Linked DNA regions of Homo sapiens. The protein of the gene in region 1 purifies or fractionates together with the protein of each later gene. This does not show direct contact. Each region holds a gene or a part of one and is shown on either strand. Other genes may lie near its edges.

Region 1 (5,543 bases):
CACTGCACTCCAGCCTGGGTGACAGAGTGAGATCCCATTTCAAAAAAGAAAAAAAAAAATAGGATCAGATCAGACCCTGTACTTGCACAGCCCTCCTTCACTTGTTTCACTCTAGTTCTTAGGTCAAGAAAACTTTATTTACAAAAACAGGTGGCCAGACAGATGGCTGTAGTGTGTCCATTTGATTTTTTAAATATTTCATTAAAATATTAATTATCCCTATTAACAAATTTTTTTTTTGTGACTCCTTGAACTTTATACTGGAAGCAAGTGCCTCATTTACCTCACCCTAGTCCCAGCCCTGGCCAGTGACCAAATATTATTTTTAAAGTCATTTTAATGCCACAAAATATTTCAGAACTTGTGATGAAGTTGGGGTAGGGGGAAGTAGCAGTATGGGATCAACAGGGACCATGTCTTAGAAGAGGAAATTGATACCGATCTTAAAATAGATTGCTAAAAACATCTTAAAGACAACAACAACAAAAAATACTTAGTTACTTTTCAGGGCCATTCCCCCTCAGAAGTAAAGTGGGAGGCAGGTAAATTCCTCAACCTCATAAGGGCATCTACAAAAACCCAACCAAAGGTAAAATGATGATTAATGGTGAAAAACTGAAAGCTTTTCTCCCTAAGATCAGAAACAAGTCAAGGATGTCCAATCTCACCGCATCTAATTAACATTTTGCTAGAAATTCCATCCAGAGCAATTAGTCAAGAAAAAGAATGAAAGGCAAGCAGATTAGAAAAAAGTAAATCTCTGTTCTCAGATATCATGATCTTGTATGCAGAAATTCCTAAAGATACACACACACACACGGAGATTAGCACTAATGAACACACTCAGCAAGGCTGCAGGATACAAGATCTATATGCAAAAATTAATTCTATGTACATATACCAGCAATGAACTATCCAAAAACGAAATTAAGAAAGCAATTCCACCAAGAAGAGCTTTCAATGGAGGAAAATTAGTCTTTTTAACAAGTAGTGTTGGAACAATTAGACATCAAAATGCAACAGAATGAAGTTGGCTCTTAACTCACCCCATATACAAGAATTAACTCAAAATGGATCACAGATGTAAATTTAAGAGTTAAAACTAGAAAACTCTCAGAAGGAAACAAGGGTATGATCTTCATGATCTTCTAGATTTGACACCAAAGCATGAACAACAACAAAAAACAGATAAATTGTATTTTATCAAATTCTGAAACTTCGGGACTTCAAAGGACACTATAAAGAAAGTTTAGGCCGGGTGAGGTGGCCCACGCCTGTAATCGCAGCACTGTGTGAGGCCGAGGTGGGTGTATCACTTGAGGTCAGGAGTTCCAAGACCAGCCTGACCTCTGCCTCCTGGGATTACAGGCATGAGCCATGGCGCCCCTCTTCATTTCATTACTTTTTTTTTTTTCTGAGATGAAGTCTCACTCTGGCACCCAGGCTGGAGTGCAGTGGGGCGATCTCAACTCACTGCAGCCTCCATCTCCCAGGTTCAAGCAATTCTCCTGCCTCAGCCTCCTGCATAGCTGGGACTACAGGCACGCAACACCATGCCCAGCTAATCTTTGTATTTTTAGTAGAGATGGGGTTTCACCATGTTGGCCAGGCTGGTCTCGAACTCCTGGCCTCAAGTGAGCCACCCACCTCAACCTCCCAAAGTGCTGGGATTACATGAATGAGCCACCAAGCCCAGCTGACCCTCTTCATTTCTATGGTACACTCTCCCTCCACTTATCCTGCCCCTTTTAAAGTTCAGCCCTCCCTGCTCTGCTCCCCTACCCTCATCTCTAAGGTGAACCCTCTTTCCACTGCTCCATCAATTTCTGAGGTCCACCCTCCTTGTTCCTGCTTCTCCTTGCTCCACTCCTGCGCTTCCACATTGAAGCTCAGCTCCCACTGCTCTGCCTCTCCCCCTCTCATTTCTAAAGTGGCCCTTGGCCAGGCGCAGTGGCTCAGGCCCACAATCCCATCATTTTGGGAGGCCGAGCCGGGAGGATTGCTTGAGGCCAGGAGTTCGAGACCAGCCTGGGCAACATAAGGAGACCCAATCTCTACAAAAATTTAAAAATTAGGTGGGCATGGTAGTGAGCACCTGTGGTTCCAGCTACTCGAGAGGCTGAGGTGGTAGGATCACTTGATTGAGCCTGAGAGCTTGAGGCCACAGTGAGCCGTGATCGTGCCACTACACTCCAACCCAGACAACAGTCCCTGACCTTATCTCAAAAATAACTAACTAGGCCGGGGGCGGTGGCTTATGCCTGTAATCCCAGGACTTTGGGAGGCCGAGAAGGGCGGATCACTTGAGACCAGGAGACCAGTCTGGGCAACATGGTGAAACCTCGCTCTACTAAAAAACAAAACAAAACAAAACAAAAAAACAAAAACCTAGACAGGTGTGGTGGCGCGTGCCTGTAGTCCCAGCTACTCTGTCGACTGAGGTGGGAGGATCGCTTGACCCCAGGGGGCGGAGGCTGCACTGAGCCAAGATGATGCCACTGCACACCTGCCTGAGAAACAGAGCAAGCACGTTTCACACACACACACACACCCCTAACTAAAGTAGCCCTTTTCTGTTTTGTCCTCCTTCCCCCATTTCTACAGTTTCCTTCTTCCGTGCTCTGATGCCCTTCTCCATTTCTAAAGTCAGCTTCCATCCTCTCTACTCAGCTCTGCTCACTCCCTATCTGGCTTGGAAAGTCTATTCCCTCCCCTCCTCCCCCATTTCTAAGATGGATAATAGCAGAGGAACTGGTCCAAGTAAAATCCACTTTTTCTGGGTTTGGTGCGAATGGAGGAGGTTAGGGGCCTTGATAAAGGAGTTCTTTTTTCTAAGGTTCCACTCTCCGTGTAGAGGTCTCAGGTTAGAGACTAGAGAGCGCCAGCAAAGAAAGGCTATCCAGAGCGAATAACCACCAGCCAACAAGCAAATAAATGGACCAACCACCCCTTCGAATAACCACCAGCCAACAAAGCAGATACACCAACCCACCAACAACTCCTAGCACTACCACGCCGGGATCCCTAGTAAAATAGCCTAAGGCTTGCTCCTCCGGGCCCTGGAATCTAGTGATTTATGACATCCGCTTGGACTGAGAAGAGCACTTGGCTCCATGTGTTTGAAGGAGGCCAGTAGTTAGGTATCAATTCTTAGGAGAGTAAAATACACGTTAATAGCGGTCTATTTTCTCCGCCTGCCCCTTTCAGCAATCCTTAATCCCCACGCGCTTCTGGTCAGCCTCCCTCAGTTCCCCACCTGAAAGGAGAGGGCTGGAGGTGAGGAGAAAAAGAGGAGAGGAGGGATAGGGGCCAAGTGGTCCCAGGGTTCGTCAGGGTGGGGCAGGTGCGGAGATGCCCTGAAGGGGAAGCCTCTCCTCGAACTGGTGTGTTCCTCCCGACGCCACTTCTAGTAAGCGCTATGCCGAGGTCTTGCGCTCAAGACCAGTGAGCCCAAACTAGTGGAGACTGGGATCCGAGATCTACATACCTAGAGACATATCTAGGAAGTTAACCTTTTTCCGACTGGGATGATTTGGCGGCACTTTTTCAGAAAGCGTTAGCTTCCGAAACGAAGCCATCTTCCCTGCATCATGGCGCCACACACTCCGAGGTAGGGCGCGTGTACCACCCCCTCACCGCGCAGGAGGAGCAGAGTGGTGGACTAACCTGATCCTCCAATCATAGCCTCTCCCTTCGGTGTTGCTAAGCCCCAAGGGGTGGAGCTTGGCGTTACCCCTCACCAAGTCTCCTATCAGGAGCTTGGCTCGCTAGAAGAAAAAAAAAGGAAAGACCCGCCCATCTCCCACCCGATACCCCTTTCTAAAAATATTCTCTCCACCTAGAGCACTATGTAGTTGGCTACAAGTTTCTAGTGTATGTGGTGTTCCGGCCCTTGCCTTTCACAGTTCCTAGGACCCATTTCTCCTCTTTGCTGTTGACATTCATGGCGAATAAAACCTTATAATCTTGACTTAATGGGCTGATGCTCTGCTTCTCTCAAATTCCAAGAGGGAGCACAAATTTAACATCTAGGGAGGATTCACAGGTTTGCAATGCCACACGCTTTCTTTTCTGTCTTTCTTTTCGTTTTTGTTTTTTGTTTTTTGTTTTTTTGAGACACAGTATCTCTTTGTCACCCAGGCTGGCGTGAAGTGGCGCCAACTCCGTTCACTGCAACCTCCGCCTCTGGGGTTCAAGCGATTCTCCCACGTCAGCCTCCCAAGTAGCTGAGATTACAGGAGCGCGCCACCACGCCTGGCTAATTTTTGTGTTTTTAGTAGAGATAGGGTTTCACCATGTTGGCCAGGCTGGTCTCCTGGGCTCAAGTGATCTACCCGTCTGTGCTACCCTCATACCACAGCGCCCACACTTTCCCTCCCTCCCTCTGTCCCTCCCTTCCTTCTTTCCTTCCTTCCTTCCTCCCTCCCTCCCTTCCTCCCTCCCACCCTCTCTTTCTTCTTCCTAACTTCTTTCTTTCCATCTGCCTTGGCATCCCTCCCTCACCGCACCTGGTTATTTCTTTTCCTTCCTTCCTTTCTTCCTTTCTTTCTTTTCTTTCTCTTTCTTTTCTTTCTTTCTTTCTTTTTCTCTTTCTTTCTTTTCCCTTTCTTTCTTTTTTTCTTTCTTTCTCTCTCTCTTTCTTCCTTCCTTCCTCTCTTTCTTTTCCTTCCTTCCTTCCTCCCTCCCTCCCTCCCTTCCTTCCTTCTTCCTAACTTCTCTCTTTCCACCCGCCTCGGCCTTCCTCCCTCACCACACCCGGCTATTCCCTTCCCTTCCCTCCCCTCCCCTCCCCTCCCCTTCCCTTCCCTTCTCTCCCTTGCTTCCTTGCTTCCTTCCTTCCTTTTTTCCTTCCTTCCTTCCTTTCTTTTTCTTTCTTTTCTTTCTTTTCTTTTTTCTTTCTTTCCTCGATCTGTTGCCAAGGTTGGCATGCCTTAACCTCCCAGGCTCCTCTTGGGCTGTAGAGATGGGGATCTCACCATGTTGGCCAAGCTGATCTCAAACTCCTGGCCTCAAGCAATCCTCCCACCTTGGCCTCCCAAAGTGCTGGGATTACAGGCATGAGCCACCATACCCGGCCTGCCACATGCTGTTCAATGACCTTGAAGATGTGTCCATGACATTTCTTAAGAAAAATGTAATTGTTCTTGTTATCACCTAATACTGCTCAATCAAATGCTACTTTAAAATATTAGAGAAATCTTGTCACTGGCTCTTCAGTAGAAATAAAAATCAAATTAATACATTTTCAAAGGTAAAAATATGTTCAAGCTATTACAGAATCCACAACATAAATAAATGCCGGAAGAGATTTTGAAAAATGTAAATTATTTAACTATTTATTGTATTTAAGTAAATGCTTCGCACCTGGGACCTAAAGATTAATAAATAAATCTGTTTCTCCATGCATATACAATTGCCTGAAGACAATAAATGCATGCAAAATATTAATTTAGGTGCTGTAATTTAGTCTGTCAACAAATACTGAGCTCCTGCTGTGTTAGGTTCTGAGGATACAGGTATGTACAAAATGTATTTGGGATTCA
Region 2 (4,428 bases), on another chromosome or scaffold:
CTTCATCTCCAGGTGGGTCTTGGGGACACCAAGCTTCTCCATCATCCTCTTTAAAGACATCAGGTCTGCCGGGGGAAAAGCAGATCTGTTAAGTGGAGATGGGCTGCTGGGGCTTAGCAGGGAAGCTGGGAAAGCTCCACTCAGGCACCCCACGCCTAGAAACTTGGCGTCTGCACTCCTTCTCTAGGGAGGAGGAGCCCATCACGCCCTCCCTGCTCTCTTTGGAGGCCGTATAGGCTAGTGGTTAGTGACCTGGGCTTCTAGAGTCAGACGGGCTTGCATTGGAATCGAGCTCTGCTATTCCTGGCTCTGGGATCTGGGGCACACTACTTAACCTCTCTGAACCCCTGCTCCCACCAACGGTGGAACGGGTGGATGGGATCATTCAGGGATCTCTGTGCAGGAAGCACCGGCCCAGAGCACTTTCTTCACACCATGACTGTGGGCTCTGCTATTTCCTGCAGTTAGGGTGGGCTGGGTGCCCACTCTCCTGCTGCCTGGGGAGTTATGCCCAGTGTGGCAGGGTCAGGAAGTCAGGCATTGAAAGTAACTCTGCTGGGTGCCGAGTGGCAGGTGGCTTCTCCCCACGTGCCACTCCTGTCCTGCTGTCCTAGGGCTCTGCCCCGGCTGGAAGGGAGAGGATGCCAAAAATATCCCACAGAGCAGGAAAACCAACAAAAGAACAAAATTCAAGAAAAACAAGGGAGGCCCCAGAATGTCACTCCAGCCCGAGGCGGTGCTGTCTCTGACCGCCCAGCTCCCACCAAGATCTGAGGCAATTTCCTTTGGATTGTTCTCCAGTGAACAATGGGTCATCTAAGGATGGCAGGAGAGGGCTGGGGTAGGGGCCATGGGCCGTGGCGCAGCCAATGCTCCTCCTGGCAAGGCGGGCGGGACTGGGGCCAGGCCCAAAGGTGCCAGGATGTCCACGCATTCAGAGAGAGCTGGGCAGCCTTCTCCAGGAAAGGGGGAAAGGGCTGCACACGCACTGCCAGACTCTGAAGTTGGCAGGACCTTTCTCGGGCAGTTCGGCAAGATGCTTCAAAAGCCTTTGACCCAGTGTCCCCTTCCTGAGATTTCCTCTACAGAAATAACCAGGGAGGTGAACAAGCACTCATGTACAAAGAGGTTCTTTACAGGATTATCAATAATAGTTAAAATTGGAAGGCATCCAAATGGTCCACACAAAGGCATCGGCTAAACAAATTAGAATCCATTCCTACAATGCAGCCATTAACTATATTTCAAAAGAAAAATCAGCTGGCGCCATGGCTCATGCCTGTAATCCCAGCACTTTGGGACGACGAGGCAGGCGGATCACTTGAGGCCAGGAGTTTGAGTCCAGCCTGGCCAACATGGTGAAACCTCGTCTCTACTAAAAATACGAAAATTAGCCGGGCGTGGTGGTGCGTGCCTGTAATCTCAGCTACTTGGGAGGCTGAGGCAGGAGAACCGCTTGAACCTGGGAGGCTGAGGATGCAGTGAGCCAAGATTGTGCCACTGCACTCCAGCCTGGGCAACAGAATGAGACTATGTCTCAAAAAAAGAAAGAAAAATCAATAATAAATCAAAATACTCACCATTGTTTTATTTCACTTATTTTTTCTGGCCGGGCTGACCAATAGAAAGTTATTTTTTTCAAGGAGGCTCAAAAATGATATAAAACAGCTTTTGTGATTAGAATAAAGAGTGGAAGGCTAGAAACGGAAATGTTTGTAGCAGTTACTTCTGGGAGGTGGGGTTGTGGGTGATGCATTTTTGTCTTTTTGTCTTGCTGTGTTTCCCCAATTTTTTTAATGATGAAAATGTGTTTATTTGATAAGCCAAATTTTTTTTTTTTTTTTTTGAGACGAAGTCTTGCTCTTGTCCCCTAGGCTGGAGTGCAATGGTGCAATCTGGGCTCACTGCAACCTCCACCTCCTGGGTTAAAGCAATTCTCCTGCCTCAGCCTCCCGAGTAGCTGGGATTACAGGCATCTGCCACCATGCCCGGCTAATTTTTGCATTTTTAGTAAAGATGGGGTTTCACCATGTTGCCCAGGCTGGTCTCGAACTCCTGATCTCATGTGATCCGCCCGCCTTGGCCTCCCAAAGTGCTGGGATTACAGGCGTGAGACACTGTGCCTGGCCAAATTTTCTTTCTAAAGAAAAAAAAAAATGATCAAAATATTCTAAAGGGAGAAGAAAAGAGAGAGGACAGAGGAAGAGGAGTAGAAATGCCGGTAGCAGCATCAATCTGAGACGCAGGATGAAATGGAAAAGGGGGAAACTGTTCAGAAACCAACGGCTGGGCCCTGGTTCACTGCCAGTGTTCCATGTAAGCAAGTCATTTCACCTTTCTTTTTGCTTTTTTTTTTTTTTTTTTTTTTTTTGAGACAGAATCTCGCTCTGTCACCCAGGCTGGAGTGCAGTGGCACAATCTTGGCTCACTGCAACCTCCGCCTCCTGGGTTCAAGCAGTTCTCCTGCCTCAGCCTCCCGAGTAGCTGGGATTACAGGCACCCGCCACCACACCCAGCTAATTTTTGTATTTTTAGTAGAGATGGGATTTCGTCATGTTGGCCAGGCTGGTCTTGAACTCCTGACCTCAGGTGATCCCCACGCCTTGGCCTCCCAAAGTGCTGGGATTACAGGCTTGAGCCATGGCGCCCGGCCCATTTCACCTTTCTGAGTCTTGCTTTCCTCATCTGTAAAATGGGGATAATTAAACCAGCCTTAACCACTTCTTTGCGGGTGAGGTCCAGGTATGGTCTCCTACCAGAACGTAAGTGCCAGTAGCTGCACAGCAGGATGCAATAAGGAGAGAATCAACGTATATAAAAGCAACTTGTCAACTGCCGAATGACATACAATGGAAAGACAGACTTCAGGGCCACTGAAATGCCAGCCAGGAGGCCCAGGGCCTGTCCACCCTGAGTGTCTCCAGCCCTGGGCAGGTGTGGCACCCTCTGTCCTGAGTCCCCGTAGCACCTGGGGTGGGAGGCTGAGGTGTGGGTGGGGAGGGAAGCAGTAGGGGATCAAAGGGTCTGGAGGAGTCTGAGGGCAGTGGTGCCAGGGCAGAAGGCAAGGGGCTGGGGCTGGCTCGGCGCAACATATTCACCAGCCTTCCGGACTGCCCCATGCCCCTCACCCGCACAGAGGGTCCCTCAAGCCCTCTACCCACTTAACACCCTCCTCCCTAAACACACTCAAGGCTTCACTCACCAATCTCGCCTTCATTGTTCAGGTCAAACTCCATGTACTTCTCTGGAAATCACAGAGCAAAAACTAGCATTAGTTTGGAAGCAGCGTCTCCCTGTGGGGACCCAGTGGCTCCCTTGTGGGCAAATGACCGTGTCCTCAGGAGTCTGAACCACCTCCCGCACCCTACCAAGGGTCTTGACCTGAGTCCCCCATCCGCTGAGCCATGGCCTCTGGGGAAAGAGCTCATCCTGCCTGGACTACTCTCCTAGAGGTGCCACGAGGGAAAGATGGCTGGGGGCCACTCTGACCCTCTTACCAGGAGGGCAGCTGCTTTCTCCCGGGTCCCCAGCAGCACAGACCAGCTGCATCTGAGTTAGTAGCAAAGTGACTAGCTCTGATTCCCTGCCCCAGGATTCTGGCTCATGGGTGTGGAAGGACAGGGTGGGGGCAGGCATGGGTGTGCTTTTTAGCGTCCCAGGCAGTTCTGATGGGCAACCGGGTGTGGGAACCACTGATTCAGGGGACCTGTGATTCTGAAACCAGGAAAAAGGCCTGCCCTAGCCCACAAAGTGGACATACAGTTTCCCGGGGTACACAGACCATCACCCCAAACCTCACACACAGACTGAGTTATACTTCCCTGATCAAGGAGTCCAGGAAAACTTCTAGCAGTGAGGGAGGATGTCGGAGCAGTGGGCTTGGTATGTTCAGATGGGAGCAGTGTGTCAAACGGACCGTGGGGCCTCTGCAGGTCACCCCCTGCCCGGGCAGAGTGGGGCCCTCATGGTCCATCCTGCCCCACAAGCAGCCAGCAGAGAAAGCCGAGGCCCTCCTGCAGGCTGTGCTGCCCCCGCCCACTCCCTGCCTGCTCCAGCTCGCTGCCCCTCTGCCTGGAATGTTCTCCCAAGTATTCTCAGCACCCTTCCTCATGGCTTCAGGGCTCCCCACCCTTTCTTTTTCTTCTTTTTTTTAGAAGGAGTCTTGCTCCATCTCACTTTGTCACACAAGCTGAAGTGTAGTGGCGTGATCTCAGGGGGGATACACAGCTCACCTAGGGCAGAGTTGGGACTTGAACCCATGTTAGTCTGGCTCCAAAGCCCCCGTTCTTAACCATTATGCTTTTTTTTTTTTTTTTTTTTTTTGAGATGGAGTCTCATTCTGTCACCAAGGCTTGAGTGCAGTGGCTTGATCTCAGCTCACTGCAACCTCTGCCTCCTGGGTTCAAGCAATCCTCCTGTCTCAGCCTC
Region 3 (4,428 bases), on another chromosome or scaffold:
ATGTTTGTGCCCGCCCCCCCATTATTCATTTGTTGAAACTTTATCACCAATTTGATGGCATATATTAAGAAAGTCACTGCACTCTTCCTCTTCTTCCTCCCTTTCCTTTCCTTCCCAAACAACTCAGTCCAAAAGTCACTAGGCCAGGCTGAATAAGATGGTACCTGCTGTAGTGTTGGAGCCCAGGGAGGGTAAGGAGGGTGTTGGTGAAGGGTCGTGGCAGTGGCCACCTGGAAAATGATGTCGGAGCCCAAGTTTGGTGAGGAAAACAGGAGACTGGTTATACTGGAGTGTGGGGGAAGGAGGGCTAGTTAAATAATAAACATATTACAGATAATAAAAACTAAGTATCTTTTGTCAAGAAGGTGGTCACAAATATGGAAAGGGAGAAAGTATGAATGAACTTTTTATTAAATAAGAATTAAAAAGCATCAGGGCAAACTCATGGTTTTCAAGAGAGATGTGTGTAATTTCTAATTCTGTCCACTGAGAGTGCCTGGGGCTAGTGACAATGCAATAACAATGAGCACAGCTAGCACTCAGATCTTTGTTTCTAAATACCATTCTCCATCATCAGAAACTAGTGCTCTTCAGAGAGACGACCGATTTCAGGGTTGGGAAAGTATAAGATGAAACTGGAATATCTTGCGATGCCAGAAATTGAGGAAGCATTCAAAGGAAAACGGGGACATCTCCAAAGGACATACAAGTTAGCCAGAAAGGGCTCCCGTGAGCTGTAACTGAACAAGTTGCGGATAAAAATAATAAAAGAAATGGATTATAATCCATTGAATATCACAGGAATCCATTGAATATCACAGGAATCCATGAGATCATACCGACATAAATAAATGAAGTTTGATAAGAAATGGGGTGAAAATTGCAGAATACCACAGTATTGCCCTACAAAATGTATATTAATTACAAAAGAAAAAAGTAACTACTGTGCAGAAGGCTGGCAGACACTCCCTCAATGGAGTGATCATAATCAATATTAAGTGATCAGAGTTGACACCTGTCACCATAATGGGACAAACTAATACCACGTGCTACCTGTTTGGATACAGTGAGAACACAGCATCAATTTGGTGGTATTCCTACCAAAGATGCACAACCTGAAAATCATCATATGAAAACATCAGAGACCCACATTAGGGAGCAGTCTACAAAATTGGGGGTGATGGGGCATCATGTTGGCAATTTACTCTCAAATGATTCAAAACAGAAAGACATTTGTACTGTACTTGGGAACTTTTCTTTAGGTTGGAGATTCTTTCCAATTTTAAAAAGTTAATGAGAAGAGTGACCTTGAGTCATTGTAGGTTTGATGGAAGCCAAGTGTCAAGATAAGATTAAGATATGGATGGACCAAGATAAGTGTCAACAATTATCCTTTAGGGTAACGATTCTTAAATTTTCTCTGGTGAAGCATCAGTTTTTCCCCACCAGTCCATTATGAAGCAATAGTTTTGTAAAATACAAAAATCCCACGCTTGGATTTCAGGACAATATCACATTGCAATAGGAGTTTTCAAATGCTTACTCTCGATGTCTGAACTTAGAATGAACCAGTAGCAAATGATTCCTGGACTAGCTTGGACCACGCTTTGAGCAGCGTTTTCCATAGCTGAAGATCTGTGGATCCCTGATTGCTATCACATTCACATGGAAAATAAAAACAACTGGTCACACTGTTATCCATATGGTAGCAATAATAATTAGCACTCTAATTAACATCAACCATCTATACAAAGTATTCAAAAAAGGGACCACCCAGGCAATATGAAGGGATTAAAGACCTGCCTTTGTGAAGAGTAATTCAACTTTTCCAAATGGGTCACATGACAAGAACAGATGCGTCCACTCCTGATTCCAAAGTAGTTGCTTTGTGGTGACTTAAGAAGAAAAACCCAGTTACACGGAAGATGAACAAAAGCATTTTGCATGGACCAGTCTGCAATGCCATGCCATGACTATCATTGCTGGGAAGGAAACCAGCATTCAGAAGGGGTTAGTTAGTAGAGGACAACTCCCAAATCAGATGGGTTTAACTAGATACTGAGGGTCAAGCTACTGATTCCAACATAGTCCACACATGGGTCCACTCTGGTTCTATGCCACAAACAGCCTCTCCTTCAGACAAGAGGCAGGCTTTCAAGTAAAAGAGAACAATTCTTTATAATAAACCAAGGCCAAAGCAGAACAACAAAGAAGGAGCTATTGCATCCTCTGGAAAGTGGCAAACTCCATGCAAGCTCAGGGTTCTTCTAGAGGACACTCTTGACACTTTTGTTGCATGTCCCTGTATGCTGGAATTCTCATGCCAGTGTCCCCCCAACACTTATTCCAGACACACACAGAGGAGGCTCCACATAGAAACCCATGAGCTGGAATCAACAACAACAGACTGCTGTGGCATCTGTCTCTCATGTGAGGCACCTCACTTACCTGGAGCAGTTTTGTAGCATGTTCTGGAGGGCAGTGATGGGGCATTCTTTGTCCTGGGGCTCTGCGTACTCTGCAAGACTTGTCTCTGCCTCTTCAGCTCCTCTTCCCTTTCCTGAGCTGCTCGGATCTCTTCCTCAATCATGGACAAAGTCCGCTGTTTCCTGGACCTCAGCTTGAAAGGCCCAACCATCACGTCAGATTCTTGAGTGGCCAGGAGGGAGGCTGTGCTTCTCAGCTCAGCTGCCTCCGAGTACTTGCTGAAATAGCTTCCTTCGGGCCTGGTCTCCTCCATGTTAATCGGGCCACTGGGCTGCACAGCTGGCAGTGGCTGGGGGGGCCCCCTTTCCCTGAGCGCCCTGTCTTCAGCAGGCAGAATCTTTGGTAATACATCCCTTTTCTCTTGAACAGGAGAAGACACCTGAGGTGGCTCAAACATGCTCTGAGGCTTTTCTGAGCCGAAAGCCGCAGCTTCAGCTTCCTCTACAGTCGCTTCAGGTCCCTGTTGCTCTGCTCCATCCCTGCTGGTTTTGGACACAGCTTTATCCACCTGCTCGGCTATGGCTTGTTGAATGGCATTCTGCACCAGGAGGCCAGCCTGATACTCCAAGGGGTCATCAACCAACGGAGAGTCCCCCAGCGTGGAGGAAGGGGAATAGAAACCATGATCACTAAATGACTTGGAGACGCCTTCTCCTCGGCCCTCTGAGGGGTTGTCAGTTTGTGGTGTCTGGGGCAGAGAAAAATCAGCCAGTGAATTTTCCTGGAGGGCATTGGTTGTCTCATTGGATGCCCCGCTGTCACTGATGTTGTCCATGCTGAAATCATTGGATAGGGTCTCCAGGACTGTGGTATCCTGAGACCTCACCGACAATTCGTCCAGACCAGAGTCAAGCTCCTCTTGGGTCAAGGAGACATTGACAGATCTTGAGAACTGATCCAAAATCCCATGGTCATCATCCTTGACCACAGTGAGGACAGCCCGGGCGCTCGTAAATTCTCCATCCTCAGCCCACAGTTTAGATAAGGGCCCACGTTTAGAAGGCTCGCTGTAGGGCCCTTCCTTCCCCTGAGAGGCTGTGTTGCCCTGGCTTCCTGCTGCCGATGGGGTCTCCAGGGCACCGGGGGATTTCTGTCCCTTGGCGGCTGAGGCACCACTGTCTTCTGGAGGTCCCCCGACAGAAGGTGGTCTCGGATTAGTCAGTGGCTTGTCTGAGTTGACTGACCCCAGAGGCCTGTAGAAAGGCTTGATGGAGAACAGCCTGGGTGTACTCTGGCCCTTGGCCACCGCTTGCCTGGAATTCTCCATCAGCTGAAATTGTTTGCGAGCAGCAGAGAAATCTATCTGCTCTGTGACAATGTCCTCCTTTGCTTTGTCAATCATGCTTGCGCGTTCATGAGAAGAGGCAGGGGCTGTGCAGAGCTGCGATGGGGGCTGCTGCTGCTGCTGCTGTAACTGCTTCTGCAGCAGCAACTGTTCCTGCTGTGCCCTTCTCTCTTTGCGCTCCTTGTACTTTTTGTGCGACTCCAGATGTTCCTCGTCCAGCTGCTCCTCGATGGTTTTTTCCTGCGGGGGATTCCACCATTTTGCTGCAATGCCAGGATTCTTCTTGACGGCCTGGCTGCGGATGAGCTCTCTCCTCTCCTTTTCCAGCTCCAGCATCTCCTCTGAAGGCCTCACTTTTCTAATGCAGTATTGTTCTTTCTCATGCTCGTCATCCTCAAAGAGCTTGGAGGGCTTCTTGTCCTCATGGAAGGCACGCAGCTCAAACTTGGCCTCCTTTTTCAGTGTGGTGAGAGTGAACTCTCCATCTCGGGAAGAACACCGTGAGCTGGTTGTGGAGCTGGGGCTGACAGGCACCTGCAGGCTGTCCCCCAGCGCATCTCTAGGCTGGCTGGGGGAATGGCCATTTGTTCTTTCTGCCTCTGCCATGGGGTCAGGGCTGCTATTACTGAGCTCGATGTGAGGAGGTGCCTGCCGGC
Region 4 (4,428 bases), 8.4 Mb from region 1:
CACACGTATGTTCACTGCAGCACTATTCACAAGAGTAAAAACTTGGTACCAACCCAAATGCCCATCAATGATAGACTGGATAAAGAAAATGTGGCACATATATACCATGGAATACTATGCAACCATAAAAAAGGATGAGTTCATGTCCTTTGCAGGGACATGGATGAAGCTGGAAACCATCATTCTCAGCAAACTAACACAGGAACAAAAAAACCAAACACCACATGTTCTCACTCATAAGTGAGAGCTGAACAATGAGAACACATGGACACAGGGACAGGAACATCACACACTGGTGCCTGTTGGGGGTTGGGGAGCAAGGGGAGGGAGAGCATTAGGACACATACCTAATGCACGTGGGGCTTAAAACTTAGATGACAGGTTGATAGGTGCAGCAAACCACCATGGCAAATGTATGCCTATGTAACAAACCTGCACATTCTGCACATGTATCCCAGAACTTAAAATTAAAAAAAAATGACAGTTGTAACACATGCAGTGTAACCCAAAAAGGGCTCAAATACAGACTATATAAAGAACCCCTACAAATCAGTGAAAGAAACTCAAGCAACTCAATAACAAAAAAGGCAAAAGATATGACAGAGACCTTTCACAAAAAGAAATAAGAACTCCAGTACAGGCGTGGTGGCTCACGTCTGTAATCCCAGCACTTTGGGAGGCCAAGGCGGGCGGATCATCGGAGGTCCGGAGTTCAAGACCAGCCTGCCCAACATGGTGAAACCCTGTCTCTACTAAAAACACAAAAATTAGCCAGGTGTGGTGGCACACACCTGTAATCCCAGCTACTCAGGAGGCTGAGGCACAAGAATCGCTTGAACTCGGGAGGCAGAGGTTGCAGTGAGCCAAGATCACGCCACCACCGCACTCCAAACTAGGCGACAGAGCAAGACTCTGTCTCAAACAAACAAAAAAAAAGAAGTACTCCAAATGACCAATAACATATAAAAAGATGCTCATGGAAATATAAGCCACAGTAAAATTACATACATATTTACAAAAAATTTAAGTCTGACAATATCAAACATAGTGACAATGTGAAACAAGGTCAACTCATACACTGCTGGTGGGAGTGTACACTGAAATAGCCTGGCAATATCTAACAGAGCTAAAGTGTAACCTATAACCCAGAGATTCTACACCTAGTATATACTCCACAAAAACACATGCTTGTATACACCAAAACTGTTGTATAATAATGTTTCTATTGGCACTGTTAGTAATAGCCAAAAACTAGACGCAACAAAAATGTTTAACAAGACAGCATAAAAATAAACAAATACTGGTATACGATGGAGTATCTTGCAACTATGAAAATGAATGAACTAAAAAAAAAAGGAAAATCAATGAACTGCAAACATACAATATGGATGAATCTTAAAAGTCATAACTGTTGAACAAAAGCAGCCAGAAACAGTAGGATAAATATTCAATGATTTCATTTATATGAAGTTCAAGAAAAAAATTAAACATATTGGGTAATGACACTGCAAAGAAAATCAAGAAAGTTTCTTTGAGTTGAAGATGCAAGGTTAAAAAAAGAGAAAAATCAAGAGGAAAACCATAAATGTCAGGATAATGTTTACTACATGAGAGGTGGGAAAGGTTTGATCGGGAACAAACAGTATGTTGCCTTGACCTGGGTGTAAGTTACATGGGGGTGCATCTTACAGTGATTATTTTAAGCTCTATATTGAGGTTTCATGACTTCTCTGTATTTTCATTACATTTCACAATTTAGAAAAAAATTCTTCCATGTTGCACAAGGCTTTAAAGAGAGCCAATGAATTCATATAGAAGAGTTTCTTACTCTTTTATATCTAGTAATCCTTTTTCTAGTCAATGAAACAAATAATTTTAAGACTTACAGAACCTGCTTATATATCACATCTAAGGCTAAATAAGATGCCAGATTACAATCATCCACAGAGAGATTATCTACTTTGCAGATTATACATAACCTTGCAGCTCACCTCTGTGCCTTCTGATTATGTCAATACCCTATCATCAGGATGAGCAGGGTAAGGTTATTAAAAGTCAACAGAGTAAACTTTTGCTGGTCAACAATTCACTTCTAGGTTTCACAAATATGTTCAAAACCAAAAAATAAAAAGGCAATGGAAGCCGGGCACTGTAGCTCACACCTGTAGTCCCAGAACTCTGGGAGGCTAAGGTGGGTGGATCAGTTGAGGTCAAGAGTTTGAGACCAGCCTGGCCAACATGATGAAACCTCGTCTCCACTAAAAATACAAAAATTAGCTGGACGCAGTGGTGCGCACCTGTAATCCCAGCTACTCTACAGGCTGAGGCAGGAGAATCGCATGAACCCAGGAGGCAGAGGTTGCAGTGAGCCAAGACTGCATCACCGCACTCCAACCTGGGCAACAGAGCGAGACTCTGTCTCAGAAAAAATAAAAATAAAAAATAAGGGCAATGGAGAGCATCTACTAAATTAAATATTTAGTTTGAAAATGTCAGGCCAGGCATAGTAGCTCACGTCTGTAATCCCAGCACTTTGGGAGGCCAAGGTGGGTGAATCACTTGAGCTCAGGAGTTCGAGACCAGCCTGGTAATATCACCTGAGCTCAGGAGTTCAAGACCAGCCTCGTAACGTGGTGAAACCCTGTCTCTACCAAAAACACAAACAATTAGCAGAGCATGGTAGCACGCGCCTGTGGGCCCAGCTACTCAGGAGGCTGAGGTGGGAGGATCGCCAGAGCCCAGGAAGTTGAGACTGCAGTGAGCCAAGATCACACCAGTGAGCCATGATCGCACCACTGCACTCCAGCCTGCACTCCAGGGTGACAGAGCAAGATCCCATCTCAAAAACAAAAACAAAGAAAGAAAATGTCATTTAGCTATTAAACATTTCTCACTAAAAAAATTATTCTGAGAGTACCTTACAAATGGTAAGCTGGTTTAAGTTTGATCCCAAGTACTTTCAACTACTTCCCTGGAGAACTAGACAGGCCTTCTAATGGGTTGAGAAGAGAACAGTGGTTGGTTAAGAACACTGGTTAAAGTTGGATATGCTGGCTCATGCCTGTAATCCCAACACTTTGGGAGGCCGAAGTGGGAGGATCACTTGAGCACAGGAGTACAAGACCAGCCTAGCCAGCCTAGCCAACAAGTGAGACCCCATCTCTACAAAAAAAAAAAAAAAATAGAAAAAAAAAGTAGCCAAGTGTGGTGGCACATGCCTATAATCCCAGCTACTTGGGAGGTTGAGCTGGGAGGATCACTTGAGCCTGCAGGTCGAGGCTGCAGTGAGTGGTGATCGTAGTACCACTGCACTCCAGCCTGGGCAGCCTGGGGAACAGAGTGAGACCCTATCTCAAAAAAAAAAAAAAAAAAAAAACCACGATTAAGCTTCTAATTTCACAAAATACGTTAAACCTAACATAAGTTTATCTGGAATATAAAACAAAATCAATCTTCCTTCCACCAGGCAACACAGAAATAACATCTGCTTCAGACTAGCATCAGAAGATATAACCTAAAAATGCCATCTAGGTCTTTTGTGGAGAGGAGATATATAAGTATATCAAGGTTGCTTCAATATTTACTATGAAGTATTAAAACAATTCCCTCTTTGGGTTCTCATTTCCCTTATAGGGTCAATTCTCTTTAGAATATAATAGCAGGGGCCAGGCACCGTGGCTCACACCTATAATCCCAGCACTTTTAAGAGGCCGAGGAGGGCAGATTACTTGAGGTCAAGAGTTTGAGACTAGCCTAGCCAATATGGTGAAACCCCGTCTCTACTAAAACTACAAAAATTAGCCGGGCTTGGTGGCCAATGCCTGTAATCCCAGCTACTCAGGAAGCTGAGGCAGGAGAATCACCTGAACCCAGGAAGCGGAGGTTGTAGTGGGTCGAGATCGCACCACTGCACTCCAGCCTGGGCGACAGAGTGAGACTCTGTCTCAAAAAAAATAATAATAATAATAGCAGGAAGCACCATGTCTTTGAAAGAAGAATTTAACAGAATAAAGTAACTCATCTTTCCCTTTGTACTCGGGCTACTAAAATGCAATTTCAAATATTCCTTCATATAGAAAAAGAGAAAAAAGAAAAAGAGGAAAGGAAAAGGAAAGGATGAGAAAGAAAGAGAAATAAAATAATTGTTTAAAATTCCTCCTTATTCACTTGAGCCCAGGAGGTCAAGGCTGCAGTGAGCCAAGATCGTGCCACTGCACTCCAGCCTGGGCAACAGAGTGAGACCCTGTCTCAAAAAAAAAAAAAAAAAACTTCTCCTTATAACAATGCACTTGCTTCCTCACATTTTCAATAGTTTCATTTCTATTTAACAATCTTAATGCATGTCTTTTGCAAAAAGCCTTCCAATGGTTGCGGGGAAGAGGTTGCATCAGTGTTGCAAACTCCTACCTAGACTAATGGTACAGTCAT

Evidence for each region.
Region 2: the proteins of LUZP4 (region 1) and AIF1L purify together in Homo sapiens (affinity purification with mass spectrometry, with the first as the bait; one large-scale study listed by BioGRID). This does not show direct contact.
Region 3: the proteins of LUZP4 (region 1) and PALM2AKAP2 purify together in Homo sapiens (affinity purification with mass spectrometry, with the first as the bait; one large-scale study listed by BioGRID). This does not show direct contact.
Region 4: the proteins of LUZP4 (region 1) and THOC2 purify together in Homo sapiens (affinity purification with mass spectrometry, with the first as the bait; one large-scale study listed by BioGRID). This does not show direct contact.

Annotation. Positions count from the first base shown.
Region 1 is NC_000023.11:115,287,795-115,293,337, reverse strand, and holds the start of LUZP4 (leucine zipper protein 4), read right to left. Parts: upstream 3,624-5,543; 5' UTR 3,579-3,623; coding exon 3,488-3,578; intron 1-3,487. UniProt on the Homo sapiens protein: Export adapter involved in mRNA nuclear export in cancer cells. Binds and enhances the RNA-binding activity of the nuclear RNA export factor NXF1. Can restore mRNA export function in cells compromised by loss of mRNA export adapters.
Region 2 is NC_000009.12:131,113,393-131,117,820, reverse strand, and holds part of AIF1L (allograft inflammatory factor 1-like), read right to left. Parts: intron 3,245-4,428; coding exon 3,203-3,244; intron 66-3,202; coding exon 1-65. UniProt on the Homo sapiens protein: Actin-binding protein that promotes actin bundling. May neither bind calcium nor depend on calcium for function.
Region 3 is NC_000009.12:110,136,560-110,140,987, reverse strand, and holds part of PALM2AKAP2 (PALM2-AKAP2 protein isoform 3 (PALM2-AKAP2)), read right to left. Parts: coding exon 2,449-4,428; intron 1-2,448. UniProt on the Homo sapiens protein: Binds to regulatory subunit (RII) of protein kinase A. May be involved in establishing polarity in signaling systems or in integrating PKA-RII isoforms with downstream effectors to capture, amplify and focus diffuse, trans-cellular signals carried by cAMP.
Region 4 is NC_000023.11:123,722,263-123,726,690, forward strand, and holds part of THOC2 (THO complex subunit 2), read right to left. Parts: intron 1-4,428. UniProt on the Homo sapiens protein: Component of the THO subcomplex of the TREX complex which is thought to couple mRNA transcription, processing and nuclear export, and which specifically associates with spliced mRNA and not with unspliced pre-mRNA.